Homo sapiens: one gene and its partners. The protein of the gene in region 1 purifies or fractionates together with the protein of each later gene. This does not show direct contact. Each region holds a gene or a part of one and is shown in the gene's direction. Other genes may lie near its edges.

What was found.
Region 2: the proteins of IRF2 (region 1) and TRIM25 purify together in Homo sapiens (affinity purification with mass spectrometry; one large-scale study listed by BioGRID and IntAct). This does not show direct contact.
Region 3: the proteins of IRF2 (region 1) and LARP4B purify together in Homo sapiens (affinity purification with mass spectrometry; one large-scale study listed by BioGRID and IntAct). This does not show direct contact.
Region 4: the proteins of IRF2 (region 1) and CEP170 purify together in Homo sapiens (affinity purification with mass spectrometry; one large-scale study listed by BioGRID and IntAct). This does not show direct contact.
Region 5: the proteins of IRF2 (region 1) and HDHD5 purify together in Homo sapiens (affinity purification with mass spectrometry; one large-scale study listed by BioGRID and IntAct). This does not show direct contact.
Region 6: the proteins of IRF2 (region 1) and G3BP1 purify together in Homo sapiens (affinity purification with mass spectrometry; one large-scale study listed by BioGRID and IntAct). This does not show direct contact.
Region 7: the proteins of IRF2 (region 1) and IARS2 purify together in Homo sapiens (affinity purification with mass spectrometry; one large-scale study listed by BioGRID and IntAct). This does not show direct contact.

The regions. Positions count from the first base shown.
Region 1 is NC_000004.12:184,394,551-184,398,050, reverse strand, and holds part of IRF2 (interferon regulatory factor 2), read left to right. Parts: intron 1-3,500. UniProt on the Homo sapiens protein: Specifically binds to the upstream regulatory region of type I IFN and IFN-inducible MHC class I genes (the interferon consensus sequence (ICS)) and represses those genes. Also acts as an activator for several genes including H4 and IL7.
Region 2 is NC_000017.11:56,893,550-56,897,049, reverse strand, and holds part of TRIM25 (E3 ubiquitin/ISG15 ligase TRIM25), read left to right. Parts: intron 1-1,097; coding exon 1,098-1,124; intron 1,125-1,445; coding exon 1,446-1,529; intron 1,530-1,608; coding exon 1,609-1,707; intron 1,708-3,500.
Region 3 is NC_000010.11:858,706-862,205, reverse strand, and holds part of LARP4B (la-related protein 4B), read left to right. Parts: intron 1-3,500. UniProt on the Homo sapiens protein: Stimulates mRNA translation.
Region 4 is NC_000001.11:243,189,282-243,192,781, reverse strand, and holds part of CEP170 (centrosomal protein of 170 kDa), read left to right. Parts: intron 1-1,287; coding exon 1,288-1,764; intron 1,765-3,500.
Region 5 is NC_000022.11:17,149,278-17,152,777, reverse strand, and holds part of HDHD5 (haloacid dehalogenase-like hydrolase domain-containing 5 isoform 2 precursor), read left to right. Parts: intron 1-3,032; coding exon 3,033-3,236; intron 3,237-3,500.
Region 6 is NC_000005.10:151,778,454-151,781,953, forward strand, and holds part of G3BP1 (ras GTPase-activating protein-binding protein 1), read left to right. Parts: intron 1-3,500. UniProt on the Homo sapiens protein: Protein involved in various processes, such as stress granule formation and innate immunity. Plays an essential role in stress granule formation.
Region 7 is NC_000001.11:220,107,632-220,111,131, forward strand, and holds part of IARS2 (isoleucine--tRNA ligase, mitochondrial precursor), read left to right. Parts: intron 1-3,154; coding exon 3,155-3,306; intron 3,307-3,500.

The DNA.
Region 1 (3,500 bases):
ATCTAGTACAGGTTCTAATTAGGCCAGATGACTGAGCCATTTCCAATTCTCCAGGGACTTGGCTACATAATGACAGGAGTTGGCCCAGGCAGAGTCACAGGGGGAGGAACAGATCCAGTTGGTTCTTCCATTCTTCCAGAGTAAAAGGATGGCTCCTCTCGTTCGCCAACATTACTTCATCTTCTCCTCTCTTCCTGATGATCTCCATTGAATTTTGTGGAAATCAATTGTAATTAGGAAATATAAATTCTGAGTCAGTGTTACTGCTTGCAGATATTAAAAATAAAAAGCAGAGTCCCCATCCTGGGAAACTGCAGTTCAGCTCTAGCAAATAGTTCAGGGATTCTTCCCTGTGCTCTTTACACGCTGCCAAATGGGATGTCCTCCAGTAGGTGCCACCCCCAACACTGGCTCCGACCAGCGTTGGAATTAGAGTTGACTCAAAGGACTGTTGTTTGTGAATTATCAGCCACTAAGTCTAATCTCATTTTCCCTGAATGCCAACTTTCTTTTTTTTTTCACTTTTAAAAATTGTGGTAAAATACATTAACATAAAATTTACCATTTTAGCCATTTTTAGGTACACAGTTTAGTAGCATTCAGTGCATTAATGTTGTCGCAGCCATCACCAGCATCCACCTCCAGAACGTTTTTCATCTTGCGAAACTGAAACTCTGTCTGCATTAAACACTAAGTCCTCTTTTCCCTCCTCCACCCCAGCCCCTGGCAACCTCCTGCCTATTTTCTATCTCAGTGAATTTGGCTATTCTAGGTACCTCCTATGAGTGGAATCATAGTGCTTGTTGTTTTGTGACTGGCTTATTTCACTTAGCATAGGTCCTAGTGTGCATTTATGCTAGGAGCGTAAGTGGAATGTGAGAATAGACCTTGGCCACAGGAAGATTATAATCTGTCAAACAGGATAAGCTTGTCTTCGGTGCTTTATTCAGCAAATGCGTTTTGGACTCTTACACGTGCCAGTCCCTGTTTGGTCCTTGCCAGAGTGCAGTCACAAGAACTACTATGTTTTGCAAATTTATTGTGCCCTGGGAACCATGCTCAGTGCTTGGGTACAGTTGACTGTTGTTGTTGTTGTTTGTTGTTGTTGTTAATAGAAATAGGGTTCTGCCTTGCTGCCCAGGTTGGTCTAGAACTCCTGGGCTCAAGTGATCTGCTCGCCTCAGCCTCCCAAAGTGCTGGGATTACGGGCATGAGCTGCCATGCCTGGTATGATACAGTTGACTTGTTTAATTATAATTAGAGTAACCCTGTCAGCCTGGGTATCGTCATCATCCCGTTTTTAAAAGTGAGGAATCTGGCTGGGTGTGGTGGCTCACGTCTGTAATCCCTGCACTGGAAGGCTGAAGTGGGAGGATCACTTGAGCCCGGAAATTGGAGACCAGCCTGGGCAACATAGTGAGACCACACTTCTACAAAAAATAAAAAAAGTTAACCGGGTGTGGTGGCATGTGCCCGTAGTCCCAGCCACTTGGAAGGCTGAGGCAGGAGCATCCCCTTGAGCCCAGGAGTTCAAGGCTTCATTGAGCCCTGGTTGCACCATTGCACTCCAGCCTGGGTGACAGAGCGAGATCCTGTCTTAAAAAAAAAAAAAAAGAAAAAAAAATATATATATATGGATCTGCGGCTGGCGTGGGTAGAGCAGCGTGTCTGAGGGAGGAACGATTGGGAGCACAGCTAGAACCCATGAGCCGTTGATGCCAAAGGCCGGTCCTTAACGCCCGCCCTGTGTCGCTGCCCTGGACAGCGCACGGGCTCTGCCGTTCAGAACACAGCCACATCCCGTGATCTCATTTGATTTTCACAAGGACCCACCAAAGGAGGCAGAGCAGAATGTTTATGCCTAAATTTTACAGTAGAGCTAACCGAAGCGTGAAACACTCAGCCACTTTGCTTATATTTACATAGTTATGGCTAAAAACCCATGACTTTCTTCTATAGCCTGCTGCTGCAGGCATCGTTACACTCCATGTGGTTTTCTTTCTCTCTTCTTTTTTTAGGGGGTTGGAGCTTTAGAATAGACTTCTATGTTTATCTGTTGAGTAAGACTTTTCTGAGGTCTTCTTGGGGATTCTGGAAAGACCTCTTCTTGCTGTTCTGCCAGCAGTGGCATTTGCTCAAGCAAAAGATTCCGGAGAACAGCAGATCCATGCAGAGAGAAATGAACATTTCATTACTCTCTTCAGGACATTTGCATAGGTTTGAAAGGAAGGATTTCAGTGCCAGGATGGCAGTCAACAGGAGGTTTTGCTGGAGCCTGGCTTTTCAGCCTGGCCTTTGGTTCTTTCCGTTGTTTTCATTGTCTGGATTCTCCAGAACCTCGTGGAGGGAGGCTTACTGGTTGGAGGCAAAATGTTCCATCGCTGCTGATGTTCTAGAGCTCACAGTGGTGTAAAACATTTCCCTGCTACTGACTGTAGCTAATTTTAGTTCCTCCGTCAGAAATTGTATAACATGCTGTCAGGAAAGGCAGCTTTCTGCGTGTATTCACCTTTCTTGCTTTATGTTCTCCAGTAGAGTCGGCCATTTGCCTGTTTTTCATGATGGAGTTCCTTTGTTTGGGCTGTTCATCTGAATTTCAATCTCCTCTGACCACCTTTTTTTTTTTTTTTTTTTTTTTGAGACGGAGTCTCGCTCTGTCGCCCAGGCTGGAGTGCAGTGGTGCGATCTCGGCTCACTGCAAGCTCCACCTCCCGGGTTCACGCCATTCTCCTGCCTCAGCCTCCCGAGTAGCTGGGACTACAGGCACCCACAACCAAGCCCGGCTAATTTTTTTTGTATTTTTAGTAGAGACGGGGTTTCACCGTGTTAGCCAGGATGGTCTCGATCTCCTGACCTCGTGATCCACCCGCTTCGGCCTCCCAAAGTGCTGGGATTCCAGGCGTGAGCCACCGCGCCCGGCATGCTCTGACCACCTTTATTCATCTGTTTGGGAAACTGGTATTTGGAGGCTGCTGTTTGCTAGTTTTTCCCCCTACTGATCGTTGAATCATAATCCCAGTAGTATATTACAAAACCACATTCAGTTTTGCAAGTCTGTCTTCTCCTCTGTGGTCTAAATATTATGATGAGAAAGAGAAGAGATAGTACTTGCGTTGGATGTTTTAAGACAACATAAAATTCTAGTGTGATTTGTGAAACTTTCATACTAGGGAGGGACATTTCAAAGTGCCACTTTGGGAAGCTCTGGCGGAGAGACATGTCATGTTTAAAGGTGCATTACAAAGTGACCCCTTGCCTGATCTGTGGCATCAGAATTTTATTAGGTGGTTGATGGTTTAGTAGAAGAAAACCACAGTAGAATAATGGGGTGGGGGAGGATGGGTAAGAGGGGCTGGAGAGTAGACTCGAGAAGAAAACATCATCTGAAGGACTCACTGGCTATAATGAGAGAGTGGAGATCGCCTGCTGACCAGCAGCCATCAGTAAAGGCTTTGAATCCTTCGGGAAACCACACCAGGCTTGCATTTTGTTGGGCAGAG
Region 2 (3,500 bases), on another chromosome or scaffold:
CCTCGAACTCCTGGGCTCAAGTGATCCTCCTACCTTAGCCTCTTGAGGAGTTAGGACTGTAGGCATGTGCCACTAAGCCAGGCTAATTAAAACAATTTTTTTTTTTTTGTAGAGACAGGATATTGATATGTTGTCCAGGCTGATCTTGAACTCCTGGCCTCAAGCAATCCTCCTACCTCAGCCTCCCAAATTGCTGGGATTACAGGAGTAAGCTACAGTGCCTGACCAATAATTTGCATTTCTTAGGGGTTCTCTGGTGATGTCACTGCAGCTGGCTTGGGCACCAGACTTTGAGAACGACTATTTTAGCCAAACTCAGTTCCTGTAGGTAGACACTCCAGATATTTTTAAAAGACTTGGCAAGCATTTTTTTTTTTTTTTGAGACAGGGTCTCATTTTGTTGCTGAGGCTGGAGTGCAGTGGCAAGAACACAGCTCACTGCAGCCTCATCCTCCTGGGCTCAAGCAATTCTTCTGCCTCACCTCCCAAGTAGCTGGGACTACAGGTGTGTGCCACTAGGCCTGGCTAGTTTTTTCTTTTTTTTTTTTTTTGTAATTTTGTAGAGATGGGGTTTCCCCATGTTGCCCATGCTAGTTTCTAACGCTTGAGATCAAGTGGTTCCTGCACCTTGGCCTCCCAAATTGCTGGGATTCCAGGCATGAGCCACCATGCGCCCAGCCCTTGGCAAGCATTTTTTTTTTTCTGATTCCCTATTTGGTTTTTGTGTTTTTTCCTTTATGGAAATATAATTTACCTGCAGTAAATCTCTTTTTTCCCTGCAGTAAATCTTAAATGTGCAGTTAGATCTATTTTGACAAATGCATACATGTGTTACCATTGTTCAAATCAAGATAAAGAATTTCCCTTTCTCCAGAAAATTCCTTCATGCTCCTTATTAGTCAGTCCCCGCCCCCACGACCGCTCATGCTGGTTTCTATCACTATAGATTCATTTTGCCTGCTGACTCCTTCTGTTTTTCAAATTAAAACATCCTTTTATTTGTCTGGGTCAAATTCATGCACATGAATGTTATTATTTTGAAAATGTCATTGTGTTGTGCCTTAAAAGAAATTAAATCTGAAAACTTTCTTTTGCAGAAGAGGAAAAGAAATCCAAGAAACCTCGTAAGTTATGCATTTCTGCAACTGTTCGTTTCTTGAGACTGCCCGAGCACAGAACTAAATGCTGGTAGTGAGAGTCGACCTCTCTCATCAGGGTTCTGTGATGGGTTCTATATGATTCCATTCTGTAATGGCAGCAGGCCTGAGGCTGGAGGGGAGGACAAGCATAAGTGAGATGAATAAGGTGACTTTAGCCTTGTCTGTTTTCCCCTGTGTTGTCCTGCTGTTCAGGCGTGTGTTTGTAGAAGTGGCTCTTAATCAGTGTGGAAGGGAGTAGAGGCCATCCCGTTGCTCTGTATCATATTTCCCTTTCCTTACCCCCAGCCCCTGTCCCTGCCTTACCCAGCAAGCTTCCCACGTTTGGAGCCCCGGAACAGTTAGTGGATTTAAAACAAGCTGGCTTGGAGGGTAAGTTATCATGGGCAAGGAGCTTTGGGGTGTCCACTCTGAGTTTGTTCTGCAAATCACTCTCTGTTTCCTCTCCCAGCTGCAGCCAAAGCCACCAGCTCACATCCGAACTCAACATCTCTCAAGGCCAAGGTGCTGGAGACCTTCCTGGCCAAGTCCAGACCTGAGCTCCTGGAGTGTGAGTAGCTTCGGGGCTGGTGCGCGGTTCCACTGGTTCTGTCTCTCCTGCGCCGCTCTGTGCAGCTCTCTGTGAGGCCAGCTGGCCGGCTATATCAGCCACTCCCCTTCACTTGTCCTCTACTTTGTTGCTCCCTTATTTTCTCCCAGTCATCAGTGCCTTTCTTTACTTTTCCTAACTAGCTCAGATTTCACAATCGGTCCTTTGACTCTCCCTCTTGCCGTCTAGTCTGGCCCAATTGAGCTCACCTTTCTCTGTGGGTCGGCGCCTGCATGTCCTCTGCAGAGAAGGCAGGGCGATTGCGGTCACCGGCCTTCACCGGGCGTCCCGTTGCCGGCATGCCTGCCCTGCATCTCCTGTCTCCTCCCCACCACTCTCCAGAGCCACCATTCCCAAGACTTCCCACTGGCCATAGCTCCATCCTTCTCCCTGTCCCGCCCACCTTCTGCTTCACGAAAAAGACAGACACTGTAGAAGGGGCTCCCCCTGCTCTGTTATTGACATCGCATCTGCATCTACTGTGCCCCCTTCCTCGCCTCCTGGCCCCTTTCCCAAGACCCCCTGGCCCTGGGCTCTGGAGTCTGCTCCCCACACGCTCTCTGGAATCTTCTGCTCTCTCTTAGGCCTTTCCATTCCCATCTCTTCACCCTCAGCATCTCTACCTAGGCTTGCCTATCTGTAGCACGTTTACATCTCTCCAAATCACAAAAACAAACCTAGCAAAACTGTCTCAGCTGCAGCTCTGTTTCCTGCCTCCCTTTCACCCGAATGCTTGTTAAAAATACAAATTACTAGCTGGGTGCGGTGGCTCATGCCTGTAATCCCAGCACTTTGGGAGCCCGAGGCAGGTGGATCACCTGAGGTCAGGAGTTCAAGACCAGCCTGGCCAACATGGCAAAACCCCATCTCTACTAAAAATACAAAAAATTAGCCGGGCGTGGTGGCACATGCCTATAATCCCAGCTACTTGGGAGGCTGAGGCACGAGAATCACTTGAACTTGGGAGGTGGAGGTTGCAGTGAGCCGAGATTGTGCCACTGCACTCCAGTCTGGGCAACAGAGCGAGACTCTGTCTTAAAAAACAAACAAACAAACAAAAAACCCCAAAAACCAAATTCCTGGGCCCTGTTCTAGCCCTACAAGATCAGACTCAGGCAAGCACGGAAAGCTGTATGTTTAGCTCATTTCCTCCATGATCCTTTTGAGGACAGTTGGGGAAAAGCAGCTCTGCAGATTTTCTACATTGGTGGCTCTCAACTGTGGCTGCGTGTTGGAATCCTGGGGAGCTTTTTAAAATCCCCGATGCCCAGGCTGTCCCCCAGACTGGTTCATTCAGAATGTTGGTGTTTGGCTGCCCAGGGTTGCAATGTGGGGCCGAGGTGGGAGCCTGAAGTCTAATCCTCGTGCCACTGCATTCTGACCTCTGTCCTGCCCTTGACCCAGGCAGCTCTGAGGTCATCAGGGTACTCCGTGTCACAAAATCCAGGGACGCCTTTCAGCTTTTATTTAGCTTCACCTGTCAGTGGCATTCCTCCTCCTTCTGACACTCTCTCCCCTTGCCGCTTGAGCTGCTATACCCCCCTGGGTTTCCATCCACCCCTCCTTTGCAAGCTCGTCCAACCTGGAAGTGGGTGGAGTTCCGTTGTCAAGGCCAGGCCTAGGGCCCTCCCACTTTCCGTCTTCTTGTTTCTTCTGCACCCACGTGCAACACTCCAGGCAGCACCTGCCAGTGGTACCCACTTCCATGTGGAGGCCAAAGCCAATCACTGAAAAATATAGCCCTTCCTTTATCA
Region 3 (3,500 bases), on another chromosome or scaffold:
GTATTTATAAAGGTACAAAAATTAAGCCATGCTTGTTTCTTGTAAATATAAATTTGCCATCTTGAATTTGCATAAAGTGAATTTCCCGTCTACATGAGCAGTTTTCTAAATCTGAGGAAGGCCAGTATTCAGCAATGTAATTTGATTACATCCCCCTTGTTAATTCACCAGTAACTGGTTAGTGACTTGGGAATGGCAGAACATTGGGATAAACTGGAGTCATGTTAGAGTCCATTGAATTTAAGATGGCAAAGGAAAGGAATGCTCATCATTAAAACAGATTTTTACAAAAGATAAAAAGGCATTATACATTGAGGGAGTGAGAATCCTAATGGTAGGAAGTAAAATGGTTCAAAATAAACAATTTAAGTTTCAGACTAAATTGAAATGACCTAATCTTGAACTGGGGTCAGAATTTATACAGAAGATGGAAGATAGATAGGAGGTAGACAGATGTGAAGATCTGTCTTGAGGATGGAAGATGGGTAATGTTATCAACAGTGAAATAACTTGTGAAAATCTGCCTGAAGACAGGAGATAGATAACGTTACCAAAAGTGAAATAACATGTTAAAATCTATCTGAAGATAGAAGATAGGGAACATTATCAAAAGTGAAATAACAACATGTTAAAGTATATTCTGGAAAGTTTAATTTCAAAAGGTGATTCTTTTTAAAAGGGGTATTTAAAACTATTTTCAAAAAGAAGAAAAAGAATACCTTCTGCTTTGTCTTCCTCCTTCATCTGCCTCCACCTACTCCCTCTCTCACTCCTATAAAGCATTAGTGAGGCATAACCGATGTACAATAAACATCATATACTTCAGGTATACCCCAGATTTTCTGTAGCTTACAGACAATTGAGGAAATAATACATTATTAATGTGTTGCCTCTTTCATTCCTCTTTGCTTTGTCCACCCAGTTTGATAAGTTGTTCTGTACCTGTAAAATCCTCAGCACAATCAAGATCACGAACATCCCAAACACCAGGAAGAGCTTCCTGTGCCCTCTCCTTTCTCCGTGGAACCGGTGGTCTGTTTTTTTCTTTTTGAGATGGAGTCTTGCTGTGTCACCCAGGCTGGAATGCAGTGGCGTGATCTCGGCTCACTGCAACCTCCGCCTCCCGGGTTCACGCCATTCTCCTGCCTCAGCCTCCCCAGTAGCTGGGACTACAGGTGCCCACCACCACACCCGGCTAATTGTTTGTATTTTTAGTAGAGACGGGGTTTCACCGTGTTAGCCAGGATGGTCTTGATCTCCCGACCTCATGACCCGCCCACCTCGGCCTCCCAAAGTGCTGGGATTACAGGTGTAAGCCTTCATGCCCGGCCCAGTGGTCTGTTTTCTATCACTATATGTCAGTTTGCGTTTCGTAGATTTTTTTTCTCTTTAAAAAAAAAGATGGAACTCCTGGGCCCAAGAGATGTGCATCAGCCCCACAAGTTGCTGGACAACAGACGTGTGATAGAATTTGACAGTGTGTACTGTTTTTGTCTGACTTAGGTTACTATTTTTGAGACTGATTCATGTTGTAACATGAATTAATCATTTATTTTTATTGCTGAGAAGTATTCATGATATGGATAGATCACAGTTTGTTTTTCTATTCCCCTATTCATGGATTTTGGGATTGTTTTCAAAATGTGGCTTTGCCAATAAAAAGTGTTCATAAAAGTGAACATTTGTCAGCAAGATTTCATATAAACATATGTTTTCATTTCTCTTGGGTAAAATACCTAGGAATGGAGTAGCTGGATCATCTGGTAGGCATGTTTATCCTTTTAAGAAATGGTAAGGCAGTTTTCCAAAGTGGTGGTACCATTTTCTATTCTCAACCAGTGGTGGATTAAAGCACCACATCCTTATGACCCTTATGACCTCAGGGTCAGTCTTTAATTTTAGCTGCTGTAAAAGGGAGACAGTAGAATCTTACTGTGGCTTTAATTTATGTTTCCCTAAGGACTAATGCTATCAAACATCCTTTTTAAAAAAAAGACTGTTTTTTTTAGAGCACTTTCAGGTTCACAGCGAGTTTTAGTGGAAGGTATAGAGATCTCCCATATACTCCCCTCCCCCCCACCCCCACACATGCATGGCCTTCTTCACTATTCACACTCCCTCACCAGAGGGTGCCTTTGTATAATTGATGATCCTATATTGGCACATCATTATTACCTGGAGTCTACAGTTTACATGAGGGCTCACTCTTGGTGTTGTACGTTCTGTGGGTTTGGAGAAATGTATAATGACATGTACCCTCCATTGTAGCATCAGAGAGAGTAGTTTCCCTGCCCTAAAAGTCATCTGTGTTCTGCCTACTCACCCCTCCCTCCCCCCAACCCCTAGCATCCATTGGTTTTTTCACTGTCTCCATAGTTTTACCTTTTCCAGAATGTCATAGGGTTGGAATCCTGCAGGATGTAGCCTTCTTAGATAGGTTTCTTTCATTTAGTAACGTACATTTAAGCTTCCTCCATGTCTTCAAGGCTTGATAACTCATTTCTTTTTAGCACTGAATAACATTCCATTGTCTGGACATACTACAAATTACTTAGTCATTCACCTACTGAAGGACATCTTGGTTGTTTCCAGGTTTTGGCAATTACAAATAAAGATGCTGTTAGCATTCATGTGCAGGTTTTTGTACGGAAGGAAGTTTTTAACTCCTTTGGGTAAATACCCAGGAGTGTGATTGCTGGATCATAAGGTCAGAGTATGTTTAGTTCTGTAGAAAGCTGCTGAACTGCCTTCCAGAAGTAGAATTTCTGGATCATATGGTAATTCTTATGTTTAACTTTTTTTGGTGGAATCACCATACAGTTTTCCATACAGGCCATAGTATTTTACATTCCCACCATCAGTGTACAAGGGTTCCAGTTTTATTAAATCCTTGCCAATACTTGTTATTTTCTGATTTTTTTTTTTTTTTGAAATGGAATAATTCTGTTGCCCAGGCTGGAGTGCACTGGAGCAATCTCAGCTCACTACAACGTCCACCTCCCGGGTTCAAGCAATTCTCCTGCCTCAGCCTCCCAAGTAGCCTAGATTACAGGTGTGAGCCACCACGCCCAGCTAAATTTTGTATTTTTAGTAGATACGGGGTTTCACCATGTTGGCCAGTCTGGTCTCAAACTCCTGACCTCTGCCCATCTCAGCCTCCCAAAGTGCTGGGATTACAGGCGTGAGCCACCACACCCAGCTAACTTTTGTATTTTTTGTAGAGACAGGGTTCAACCATGTTGTCCAGGCTGGGTTCGAACTCCTGACCTCAGGTGATCTGTCTGCCTCGGCCTGCCAAAGTGCTGTGATTACAGGCATGAGCCACTGCGCCCAGCCTATTTTCTGATTTTTTTGATAGTAGTCATTCTAGTGGGTATATCTTTGTAGTTTTGGCTTGCATTTCCCTAATGGTTAGTGATGCCAAGCACCCTTTTTGTTCTTATTGGCCATTTGTCTTCTTTGGATAAATGTCTATTCAAATCCTTTGCCTATTTTTGAAT
Region 4 (3,500 bases), on another chromosome or scaffold:
GTCAGGTTTTATATTATTTCATATTCAGACTGCTGTCAAGAAACCAATTATAGTACCTGACAGATCCCACTAAAATTTAATTTTTGAAAAGATGTTTCAAAAGACCAAACGCTTCACTTAATTAGAAAATGTTTGGAAACAACCTAGTCTCCCTGTATTGCCTTGTTTTCCTAATAAATTGTCTGTAAGTGATTTTTCTATTAATCTGTTTAAAAGCAGAATTTATTTTTGAGCTTTAGGGAAATATGTCTCATTTCAACTTGCTCTTCATTTTGATAATGGACATGCTTTGCTTCTTCAACAACAGGACAATAGCATCTTTAATTTTTTTATTTTGCATTTGCGTACCGAAAACGTTTTAGTTGTCATTTTTATTTATGTATTTTATTCATAAATGCATCTGTTTCTATACTTTTGTATTAGATTCTGAGGCAACAGAAGAATAGTGATAGTGTTCCAGAGTTGCTTGCTCCTTCTGCCAACTCATGTTAATCTGAGGTTTACAATTCAGCTTTCCTCCAAGGAATTTTGACACTTTTGCATATTCTGCTGTATGGAAATGTAAACTTCCAGAGTTATTGTCTGGAAACTGAATTTCCTATTTTAACCTTATTTCGTTCACACTGCTGCTTGGATTGCAAACCACATGTTTTAGTCTTTATAAAATGTTTGTATCTTCTTGCAAGGATCGCACTTCAGCAATATCTTTGTCATTCTGAAAGTAATGTTTCCGAATGTAATGGTGAAGAATGGTAAGTGGAATCATTACTTCCAGAAGATCACTTACATATTTACTTCATGTTTGTATTCTCATTTGAGCACCTATTCTCCTTTGGAGCACTACATGTGTTCATATATATTTCAGATATCTCATCTTGGCGACTTGAGAAGGGAGTTCATGGTTTTTCTGTCACTTTTTATATATACATTGAACATGCATCTCCATCTACATTTTATTTTAATTCTTTTGGACCTTGATGAATTCTAGATCCAGGTTGGAAAAAATATGGACCTAGCCATGCAAGATCCATTTCTTAACTGCTTTGCTCTCATTTGCCATTGCTGCTGCTTATCTTCCATCCCCTATTGGTAATCAAATCGCATGTTTATAATCAAGATTCTTTCTTCTCTGTGACATTTGTTCTGTGATATAAATGCCATTGGTTTTCATCCAGACTGTGATCTGCCTTCTGGTTCTCACGGAGTAGTACACATGGCCATTACCAGACTCCCTCAAGTGCCAGAAGCAATCAAATATTTTGAATTTTCTCTTATTTTTCTCATTAGGGTGCGGCATAGATGCCAAGCAAGTTGAGGAACAATCTGCAGCTGCAAATGAAGAAGTACTTTTTCCTTTCTGTAGGGAACCAAGTTATTTTGAAATCCCTACAAAAGAATTCCAGCAACCATCACAAATAACAGAAAGCACTATTCATGAAATCCCAACAAAAGACACGCCAAGTTCCCATATAACAGGTGCAGGGCATGCTTCATTTACCATTGAATTTGATGACAGTACCCCAGGGAAGGTAACTATTAGAGACCATGTGACAAAGTTTACTTCTGATCAGCGCCACAAGTCCAAGAAGTCTTCTCCTGGAACTCAAGACTTGCTGGGGATTCAAACAGGAATGATGGCACCCGAAAACAAAGTTGCTGACTGGCTAGCACAAAACAACCCTCCTCAAATGCTATGGGAAAGAACAGAAGAGGATTCTAAAAGCATTAAAAGTGATGTTCCAGTGTACTTGAAAAGGTTGAAAGGTAAAGTGATTTGATCATTCAGAACTTCCTACTTTACGATAAAGAAAATCTGGTCTTCATTTACTAGACTACTAGTAGATACTTACATGGTAGAAAACATTCTGCTTTTTTCAAAGGTTATATTTAGTCTTAAAACTAAACAGGAAGCTACACTGCCCATGTCCAATTTCCTCATTCAAAATAGTCTTCCTTCATTTTCTTGACAAAACCAGATTGGTTTTATGAGCTTATATTTATGCTATAAAACATGTTTCTTTTTCTTCTAGAAATATAAGATTTATTAAGTTTACCAGTAGAGTTCCCTAGAAGATGAGTTCCATCATTTTCTTGATTTAAGGAAAAGATATATTCAATTCTGTTCTCTATTGAGATCAATATCTAGATTCTGAAAGAAATTTTAAGTCATTTGGTCTGAGCCAAAAGTTCTACTTTGGTAATGCAGTCACATCATTGATGGAGCGCTTCAAAGTATTCTCAGTGGTTACTCATAAAACAAAGATTTTTGGTTTAGAAATATTTGGTAGGATCTATTAATCCAGTTTTAAAATTTTTTTTAATATTAGGACTTCATGAAAATTAGAGTTGAATGTTCATTTTTGAAATAGTTATATATACTTTATTTGTGTAGAACTTAGCCAAAATTAGTACAATTTGTATGTTTGTACACTGATGTATCAGCTGATCAGTTTTTTCTCATTGGTTTTGCCAATTAAATTTATTTTAGAATTGAGTATAGATTTATGTTACCCTATCTTTTATTTAATAAGCTATCTATAAGGAAAACGATTTTGAACAAATTGTGATTACACGTTTAGCTGACCATTCTGTTACTATATTAGGAGTTTTTGTACTCCTAACACTTCATCTAGTACTTGAGCATGTGATAGGTACTAATTTGAAAACAATGGGCGATTTCTCTGTCAATGACAAGACTGTCCCTGATTTAATCTGTACCTTATGTCCTGGCATTCTGATCAAGTAATGAAGAAATAGTATTTGTATACTTATTTCTGATTTGCTTCTAAGACATTTCCGGACAGTGAGATGATGTGATTACCTAATTATTTGTTGGAGCCTATCACAATATTTAATTATAGTTATCAGCAGTTACCTGGCATATGTATTTTTGAGACATGATTGTGACATTTTACTTCTAGACAATACGTAATTGAGACATTTTGTTTCTGTAGGTTAACACTCACAAACACATAGGCTGTTTATATGAATTGGATAAATAATATTGATCTCCTAGTACAGTATAAGAGGTAGCTGAACCTTGAGAATTTAGAAATAACTTAGACTTTTTAAAACCACTCTTAATAAACAAAAACTGAGGTAAAATATCCTTTTAAAAGGTAATCATTTTAAAAATACCTTTATTAAACCCATTTATAACTTAGTCATTATAACTATTTTCTATATTGACTATTATTATTACTACTATTTTTTTTTTTTTTTTTTGGAGACAGAGTCTCGCTTTGTCACTCAGGCTGGAGTGCAGTGGCGCGATCTCGGCTCACTGCAAGCTCCGCCTCCTGGGTTCACGCGATTCTCCTGCCTCAGCCTCCCGAGTAGCTGGAACTACAGGCGCCCACCACCACACCCGGCTAATTTTTTTTATTTTTAGTAGAGACGGGGTTTCACCGTGTTAGCCAGGATGGTCTTGATCTCCTGACCTCGTGATCCACCCACCTTAGCCTCCCAAAGTGCTGGGGTTACAGGCGTGAGCCACCGCG
Region 5 (3,500 bases), on another chromosome or scaffold:
AGACATACCTCAGCTTCCTGGACCCCACACGCTCTTGGTTTTCCTCCTTGCACTGTCTTTTGCTGGCAGGTCTTGTGTGGTCCATTATTAAGTAGTATTGTTCTTCCTGGTTCTCTGAGAGGCGAGACCTTCCAAAATTTTCATCTCCAGGACCTGTCCAGTGCTGATGTCTCCACTTGCCTGTCTCCCAGGTCCAAAGTGGGACTTAACCTTGTATCCTCCAATGACCTCTCGCTGCCCGCTCCTACTGTGCCCTTTGGTTCAGTGACTCATACCCGCATCCACCCTCCCGGGTTCCCAGACCAAAATAAAAAAGCATGGGAGTCCGTGTGGCTCCCTCTTCCCTCCACCCCTGTATCTGGATGGTTACCAAGTCATGACTGTTCTGTCTCTGATAATGCCCCCTGATCTCCATTCTTACCACCACTCTCCCAGGTAAATGCTCCATCTTCTCTGTCTTGGGTTGCATTTGGTCCCACCTGGTCTTTCAGTTAACTCCCTTCAGTCCACCCAATGCAGTCTTTTCTCTGCAGCCAAATTTTTTTCTATAGTTCAGGTCTGATGATACCACTTTCCATTTTCAAACTCCTTAAATTGGCCTCGGAGACCTGTGATGGCCAATCTTCCCCACCCCTGTGGGTCAGGTTCCTCTGGTGTGGGCCTATCTCTTAGTGCAAGGCTCCCTGTAGACTGTCCTGGGGCTGCCTGTCTAATTGTCTTCTCATTGAACCAGGTAGGCAGGCAGGAACCACTCATCTAGTCTGGGGGTGACTGGGGGGTGCAAAGAGTTTTGTTACAGGATGTATTTAACACTTTCATTGTCTGGCTCAAAATTCTCTTTGAAGAAACTGCCTTTGTTTAATTCTGTTTATTTATTTAGAACTTACCTAGAATTGATTTGCACTTGCAAAAATGCTGCTGTTTTAGAGTTTGCTTTCTAGGCTGGTTGCTTGCTCTGTCACCTTAGCTAAAAAGTAGGTACTGGAGCGCCTTTTCTCTTCTCTTCTCTTCTTTCTTTCTTCTTCTTTTTTTTTTTTTTTTTTTTTTTTTAGTAGAGTCTAGCTTTGTCGCCCAGGCTTAAGTGCAGTGGCACGATCCCGGCTCACTGCATCCTCTGCCTCCCAGGTTCAAGTGATTCTCCTGCCTCAGCCTCCCGAGTAGCTGGGATGACAGGCGCCCACCACCACACCCAGCTAATTTTTGTATTTTTAGTAGAGGCGAGGTTTCACCATGTTGGCCAGGCTGGTCTTGAACTCCTGACCTCAAGTGATCCACCCTCTTGAGCCTCCCAAAGTGCTGGGATTACAGGCGTGAGCCACCACACCTGGCCTGTAGCGCCATTTCTGTTTCTGGTTGCTCTATAAAGGGAGCTCTGTGCGTAGAGTAGGTGTGTCAGTAAGAATGACTTGACCTAGTTGGCACCAACAAAGAAAAATAGCAAACAAGTTAGGTTAGGTTTTTTTGATGATTGAAGAACATCTTGTATGTTAACAGGCAGTTTATAAAATGAGAAATGGAATGATTTTTAAAAACAGCATTCAGCTTTATAAATCCAGGAAATGCAGATAGAAAAGAGATAATTTTTTTACCTTTAAATTATAAAAAAGTTTGATAATTAACAGTTGTGAAAATCAATATTGTAAGGGTAAAGTACGTTGCCAGTGGACATGTTTTTGAACAGCAGTTTGTCAGTTGGTGTTTATGTAATTACATTTGCTCTCTCTGATTTATTACTCCTATTTTTAAGAATCTAGCTCAAGGAAATACCCATAATATGGGAAAAAAATCAGTATTCCTGAAGAGGTTCCTTGTAGCATTATTTTTCATAGCAAAATTGTGGAAAAACCTAACTGTCCAAAATATAGAGAACAATATTAGTGAATTATTCACTCAGAATAGTATGTAGCCAGAAATGATGTTTAGGAAATAGAGCTATGCATAATTAATATGGAATGATAGGGCAGGGTGCAGTGGCTCAAGCCTGTAATCCTAGCACTTTGAGAGGCCAAGGTGGGTGAATCACCTAAGGTCAGGAGTTCAAGACCAGCCTGGTCAACATGGCATAACCTCGTCTCCACTAAAAATACAAATATTAGGTGGGCATGGTGGGGTGCACCTGTAATCCCAGCTATTCGGGAGAGTGAGGCAGAAGAATCACTTGAACGTGGGAGGCAGAGGTTGCGGTGAGCTGAGATAACGCTGCTGCACTCCAGTCTCGGCGACAGAGCAAGACTCTGTCTCAAAAAAAAAAAAAAGACAGCCAAGAGATACCAACTAAAAAAGTAAGATGGAAAACAAAGTCAACATGATTCTATGTGTGTGTTAACATTAGAAAGGTGTGTATACTATAGATTTATAAAAGCCTTCTGGAAATTATGCAGGACAGGAATAGGACTAAGTAAGTTGGAGACAAGAAACTTTTGAAACATTTTTATATTGTCTGTAGTGATTGAGGTTATTTTGTTTTTAACTTTTTGCTATAATAAAATCTTAAAAGATGGTTATAAAGACTATTGTAATCCATAAAAATATTTATGATATGTCAAGCAAAAAAGAACGAGATGATGTAAAATGGCATATAGTTCATTTGTAGCTACAAGACAAATATGAGAATAGAGAAAAAAGGGGAACTATTAATTGGTTGTTTTAAAGTGTTGGGATTAGGCTGGACTCGGTGGCTCACGCCTAATAATCCTAGCATTAAATTTAGGAAGCTGAGGCGAGAGGATCCCTTGAGCCCAGTGGGTCAAGGCTGCAGTGAGCCGTGATCATGCCACTGTACTCCAGTCTGGGCAACGGGAAGACTCTGTAAAAGCGAATGATTAAAAATAAGTGTTGGGATTATATTTTCTTTGGATTTCTCTATTTTCTATTTAAAGATTGCCCTATCAGAATCCCATCTTCATTTTTTTGTTCTTTCTGACATAGGTTTTCAAGGGACATGAGTGACCCGAGGATGGTGTTGAGCCTCTCTTTGTAAGGGTTGTTTCTTTGTTACTCACGTACTGGTAATTATCTTACCATCTCTGCAGAGCCCACCCACCTTTGGGTTCCTGTTGGACATCGATGGAGTGCTTGTGCGGGGCCACAGAGTGATCCCTGCTGCTCTGAAAGCCTTCCGAAGGCTGGTGAACTCCCAGGGGCAGCTGCGGGTGCCCGTGGTTTTTGTTACAAATGCTGGGAACATCTTACAACACAGCAAAGCCCAGGAGCTGTCAGCCCTGCTGGGGTGCGAGGTGAGAAGGCAGCCAGAGGCATGGAAGCCCAAGGACCTGGTTCCTAATGGAGCCGCTGCCCCAGCTCCAAGTCCCTTTCCCCTGGGTTGGGATATGGAATCACCTAGTCCTAGGTCATGGCCACAGCTGAACACAGAAATCCTGCCTGTGTATTTGGCAGTTGTAGATTATGTCCTTGTATCTGTTTCTTTTCTTCTGGGCATTGGGGGTGTGAGTCCCTGGAAAGCAAAGGTCACACACATGTCTAGAACTTGCATAGCAGGA
Region 6 (3,500 bases), on another chromosome or scaffold:
GTTTTGAGACAGTGTTTCGCTCTTGTTGCCCGGGCTGGAGTGCAGTGGCGCCATCTCTGCTCACTACAACCTCTGCCTCCTGGGTTTAGGTGATTCTCCTGTCTCAGCCTCCTGAGTAGCTGGGATTACAGGTATCCACCACCACACCCGGCTAATTTTTGTATTTTTAGTAGAGATGGGGTTTCACCATGTTGGCCAAGCTAGTCTCGAACTACTGACTTCGGGTGATATGCCCTCCTCGGCCTCCCAAAGTGCTGGGATTACAGGCATGAGAGTACTTTATATATTCTGGATAGAGGTATTTTAAAAATTAGAGATATGGGTCAGGCGCAGTGGCTCACACCTGTAATCCCAGCACTTTGGGAGGCCGAGGCAGGTGGATCACTTGAGGCCAGGGGTTCGAGACCAGCCTGGGCAACATGGTGAACCCTCATCTCTACTAAAAATACAAAAATTAGTCGGGCGTGGTGGTGTGTGCTTGTAATCCCAGCTGCTTGAGAAACTGAGGCATGAGAATTGCTTGAACCTGGGAGGTGGAGGTTGCGGTGAGCGCCACTGCACTCCAGCCTGGGCGACAGTGGAAGATTCCTTCTAAAAAAAAAAAAATCAGTCAGTCAATCAATCAGGTAAATGCCTTGCAAATATTTACTCCTAATCTGTGGCTTGCCTGCGTGCCTTTTCATTCTTTTGATGGTGTCTTTGCAGGGCAGATGGTTTTAATTTTGAGGCAGTCTACGTGATCAATTCGCTTTCTTCTTCATTTGCTTTTGGTGTGTCTAAAATCTTTGCTTAGTGTCATGCAAGTTTTCTTTAGAAGTTCAGTTTTGGGTTTTACACTTTGATTACACTGAATCATTTTGAGTTAAATTTTGTATGTGGTGTGAGACATGAATTGAGGTTCTGGTTTTTTTTTGTTTTTTCCATATGATATCTAATTGTTTCAGTACCAGTTGTTGAAGAGAGTATACTTTTTCCACTGAATTGTCTTTGCACTTTTCTTGGAAATATAGTTGTCCATGTGGATATGTTAGTGAACTCCATTCTGTTTCATGGATCCATTTGTCTCTTTATGTCTAGCCTGTGTATCTATGTACGGTATCTGGTATTTGTGTATACTAAAAACACTTTTAAATATATGTAACGTTATCACACAGTACATATTTGGCAACTGATTTTTCTTTTTAATAATGTTTTTGAGTTATGTGCTCGCTTTCTGGCAGGCATAAATAGGGTGACATATGTCTTGGTTTGCCAGGGACAGTCCTGATTCACTTCAGTTAACCTGACACTATTAATAGTAGTTGTTTTCAATCTTAAAAGTGCTCTCATATGGTTGTCTTAGGTATAGAAGTTTCCCTAATGTGAATAAACCACAACTTAATATCCATTCCTTATTTGATGGACATGTAGATTGTTATCAATGTTATACTTTACAGATAGGGTGGCAGTTATTTGTTTTTGTCTTGTGTGAGTTTGTTTTGTCTTGGGTGAGTTTCTTTTGTATATGTACCTAGAAGAGAACTGCTAGATTTTCATCAGAGTGTTTTTGATTTTATTAGATAGTGCAAAATTGTTCTCCACTGTGGTTGTACCAGTTGAGACTTCATCTTCAGCAGTCCTGTAGGCTCTTTTTTTTACTTGGTTGCCAATGTTTGGTGTTGACTGAGATTTTAATACTTTGGCGCATCTCTTGTAAGGTATCTCCTGTGAGAAGTGATTTTATTAATTGCATTTTCCTGGTTACTTACTCTGTTTTGTTTGCTGTCCATTTAGTACTTTCCTGAGAATTGGCTGCTCCATTTCATTTGCCTGTTTTTCTCTTGGGTTACTCTTTTAGTGATTTGTATGCAGGTTTATATACATTCTACTAATCTTTTATTATATGATATTATATTTTCTTACTATAAAACTGGCACTGAAAATGGGCTATGAAGGCATTTGGCTACTTTTTATTTTGTTGGAGTGAGCTTTGCCATTAAAAATGCAGGTGGAGTATGGGCTGCCTTTATGTTTCCCTGCCCGTCTGTTAAAAATTGGAGGATAATGCTCATAGTTATTTCCCCCTCCGCCGCTAGCTGATGGAGTCTTGCTCATTCGCCTAGGCTGGAGTGCGGTGGTGCGATCTTGGCTCATTGCAAGAGCTCCGCCTCCCGGGTTCACTCTGTTCTCCTGCCTCAGCCTCCTGAGTTGCTGGGACTACAGGCGCCCACCACCATGCCTGGCCAGTTTTTTTGTATTTTTAGTAGAGACGGGGTTTTACCGCATTAGCCAGGATGGTCTCTATCTCCTGGCCTCATGATCGCCCACCTTGGCTTCCTAAAGTGCTGGGATTACAGGTGTGAGCCACCGCGCCTGGCTGATAATGCTCATAGTTCTTTAGACCCTTAACATTTTTCTGTTAACTTCAGCACAATTATTGATGGGGAGTTTCTTTGAAGTTGCTTTGCAATCTGGAAACTTGGGATCAAGTGGAAAATTTGAAAGTTAATGTAGTACAGTTGAACCATGAACAAACGTGGGTATGAACTGCTCAGGTCCACTTGAGCAGATTTTTTTCAATGAATATATTGGAAAATTTTTTTTGGAGATTTGTAACAATTTGAAAAAGCTCACAAACTGAATAGCCTAGAAATAATAAAAAAAATTAAGAAAAAGGTATTTCATGAATGCATAAAATATATGTGGATACTGTTATTTACTACTGTAAAATATACACAAGTCTATTACAGATTTATTACAGAGTTAAAATTTATCAAAATGAACCCACACAAACACTTTGAGACCATTCAGGGCACCATTTGCAGTCAAGAGAAATGTAAACAAATGTAAAGATACAGTATTAAGTTATAACTGCATAAAATGAACTTTAGTATATACTGTACTATAATTTTTTTCCTAGCCACCTCCTGTAAATATTGCAATGTGCTTGTGTTGCAAGTATCTGCTTACAACACTGTGTGATGCTAATCATCTTTATGTGAGCAGTTCTTCTCTCCAGTAAATTTGGATGCAGTAAAAAGTGATTTCTCTTCAATGAGTAGTTTTCATCATGTTTAGTACAATACTGAAAGCCTTGAATAACACCATGGGACCCATACGAAATATCACTAATGATGCTGAAAGCACTCCCAAGAAACAGAAAAGTTATGACATTACAAGGAAATATTAAATTGCTTGATCTGTACCATAGGTTGAGGTGTGCAGCTGTGGTTACCTGTCATTTCAGAGAGACGATTTGTCTTTTAAACAGACAGCATAAACATATACAATACTGAAAATGTATTTTGCAAATGATTTTCTTATTTTCTTTAGCTTTATTGTAAGAATACAGTATATAACCTACAAATAGTTAAATGATTGGTTATATTATTGGTAAAGCTTCTGATCACCAGTGTGCTATTAGTAGTTAAAATTTTGAGGAGTCAAGTTATACACAGATTTTCAACTCTGGGCTATCCATGCCCCTAATTCTCACCTTGTTGAAGGCTCAACTGTAGTTC
Region 7 (3,500 bases), on another chromosome or scaffold:
TAGACCTGATATATTACTTTTCTAGGGCTACTGTAAAAAATCACCGTAAACTTGGTAGTTTGAAACAACAGAAATTTATTCTCTCAAGTGCTGGAAGCTAGAAGTCTAAATTCATCGTACTGGCAGGACCATGTTTTCCTGAAGGTTTTATGGGAGAATCCTTACTTGCCTCTTTCTAGCTTTTGGTGGCTCCTGGAAATCCTTGGCATTCCTTGGTTTATAACTGCGTTACTCCACTCTCTGCCTGTCTTGTCACATGGCCTTCTTTAGATCTTACTTGTTTTTTCGAGACAATCTCACTTTCTCACTCAGGTTGATGTGCAGTGGCATGCTTTCAGCTCACTGCCACCTCTGTGTCCTGGGTTCAAGTGATTCTTGTGCCTTAGCCTCCTGAGCAGATGGGATTACAGGCATACACCACCACACCCAGCTAATTTTTTTTTTTTTGAGACACAGTCTCACTCTGTTGCCCAGGCTGGAGTGCAGTGGTGTGATCTCAGCTCACTGCAACCTCTGCCTCCTGGGTTCAAGCAATTCTCTTGCCTCAGCCTCCCAAGTAGCTGGGATTACAGGATACACACCACTACTCCTGGCTAATTTTTGTATTTTTAGTAGAGATGGGGTTTCACCATGTTGGCCAGGCTGGTCTTGAACTCCTGACCTCAGGTGATCTGCCCACCTTAGCCTCCCAAAGTGCTGGAATTACAGGCGTGAGCCCTCACTGTGTCAGGCCATAATTTTTTTATTTTTTATTTTATTTTTATTTTTTTTTTAAGACGGAGTCTCGCTCTGTTGCCCAGGCTGGAGTACAGTGGCACGATCTTGGCTCACTGCAAGCTCTGCCTCCTGGGTTCATGGGTTCTCCTGCCTCAGTCTCTCGAGTAGCTGGGACTACAGGCGCCTGCCACCATGCCCAGCTAATTTTTTGTATTTTTAGTAGAGATGGGGTTTCACCATATTAGCCAGGACGGTCTCGATCTCCTGACCTCGTGATCCACCTGCCTTGGCCTCCCAAAATGCTGGGTTTACAGGCATGAGCCACCGCACCCGGCCTATTTTTTATTTTTAATAGAGACAGGGTTTCACCATGTTGGCCAGGCTGGTCTCAAACTCCCAGCCCCAAGTGATCCACCTGCCTAGGCCTCCCAAAGTGTTGGGATTATAGGTGTGAGCCACCGTACCCAGCCACCTTCTTTAGGTCTTAAATGTCTCTCTGTGAATCCTCTTTTTTTTTTTTTTTTTTTTTTTTTTATTGGAGGGACTGGTTCTTTATTTCAAAAAGACACTTGTCAATATTCAGTATCAAAGCAGGTGGACTATTGATTTCTGTTTCTCCCAATCGGCCCCAAAGAGACTATATCAAAGGACAGTACGTTTTAAGCCAGTATGCTGCAGGATGTACACCTGACAGACTTTACAGAAACCTTATCGGAAAGTGGGGATTGGGTAGGGAAAGAAACTTTAAAAGATCAGCAAACTGCCAGCCCGGCCAGGCACGGTGGCTCACCCCTGTAATCCCAGCGCTTTGGGAGGCTGAAGCGGACATATCACGAGGTCAGGAGTTCGAGACCTGCCTGGCCAACATGGTGAAACCCTGTGTCTACTAAAAATACAAAAAATTAGCCAGGTGTGGTGGTAGGTGCCTGTAATCCCAGCTACTCTGGAGGGTGAGGCAGGAGAATCACTTGAACCTGGGAGGCAGAGGTTGCAGTGAGCTGAGACTGCACCACTGCACTCCATCCTGGGCAACAGAGCGAGAGTCCATCTCAAAAAAAAAAAAAAAATCTGCCAGCTCACAGACTGTAGAGGGCTGTCACAGTCAAACTGGGTGGCCAGGGTGCCACCCAAAGAAGCAAAGTTTCAAAATAATACAAAAATTTAAAAAAGTTTTGTACATAAGCTATTTAAGATTTCTCTAGCATTAACTGATATTAAGCACAATGAGATGGCACTTTTAGAGACAGCAGCTTCAAACCCAGAAAAGGGTAATGAGATGAGTTTCACATGGCTGAATCAGTGGCAAAAACATAATCTTCTTTCTATCCTCCTCTAAGAACACCAGTGCTCCCTAATGCAGTGTGACCTCATCTAAACTTGATTACATCTGCAGAGGCCTGATTCCCAAGTAAGGTCACATTCACTAGTGCTGGGGGTTAGATCTTCTTGGGGACACAGTTCAACCCACTACACCTGGTTTCCTCCAGATTACCTGGAGACCATTTTAAGATTCATGGCATGAAAGATTATGGATCTAAACTTCAAATGTAGAATTCTAGATATAATCTGTTCATCTTTTCTTTGACGTGAAAAGAGGTAGAAGTGGCATAATTTGGAGTCTGATTAAGATTTTACAGTCCGTGCTTTTTTTTGCCAGGAGAATCCCAGAGCACGCCTTTGATACCTGGAAGGTGACTACTCTTTTTTATTTTATTTTTTTTTGTGAGACAGAGTCTCGCTTTGTTGCCCAGGCTGGAGTGCAGTGGCACAATCTCGGTTCACTACAGCCTCCGCTTTAGCTTAGGTTCAAATGATTCTCCCACCTCAGCCTCCCAAGTAGCTGGGATTACAGGCTCACACCACTGTGCCCTGCTAATTTTTTTGTATTTTTAATAGAGATGGGGTTTCACCATGCAGGCCAGGCTGGTCTTGAATTCCTGACCTCAAGTGATCCTCTCGTCTCTGCCTCCCAAACTGTTGGGATTACAGGCGTGAGCAACCACGCCCAGCCAAGTTGACTACTCTTTTATTTTTTGAGACGGAGTCTCGCTCTGTCACCCAGGCTGGAGTGCAGTGGCACGATCTCGGCTCACTGCAACCTCTGCCTCCCAGGTTCAAGCGATTCTCCTGCCTCAGCCTCCTGAGTAGCTGGGATTATGGGCACACACCACCATGCCCGGCTGATTTTTGCATTTTTAGTAGAGACGAGGTTTCACCATGTTGGTCAGGCTGGTCTCGAACTCCTGACCTCGTGATTTGCCTGCCTCAGCCTCGCAAAGTGCTGGGATTACAGGTGTGAGCCACTGTGGCTGGCAAGGTGACTACTCTTATTGCCACCTGTTGCTGCAGATTTAGTATTTTCTGGAAGTTTAGAGCATTTTTAGGATTTTCACAGTACTTTTTAATTATGTCTAATTTGGTGTTTTTTTTTTTAAAGTTATAAAGATGCTTCAGACTGCAAAGAATTTGTTGAAAGAGGAGAAATTGGTGCATAGCTATCCGTATGACTGGAGGACCAAGAAACCTGTGGTTATTCGTGCCAGCAAGCAGTGGTTTATAAACATCACGGATATTAAGACTGCAGCCAAGGTATAAAAAGCATCCTGTTTTAACAGGTCGGGCATATCATTCCCTCAGTATAAAGGGGCTGCATGTGAGGTTGAGGTGGGGTTTCAGGAGTAATAGGGATTGCTGCTATTATGATTTAGTTTCATAACATTGTAGAATTTTAGATCTGGAAGGACCTTGGACTTCCATTTTTTCATTATACATGTGTGAGAAAT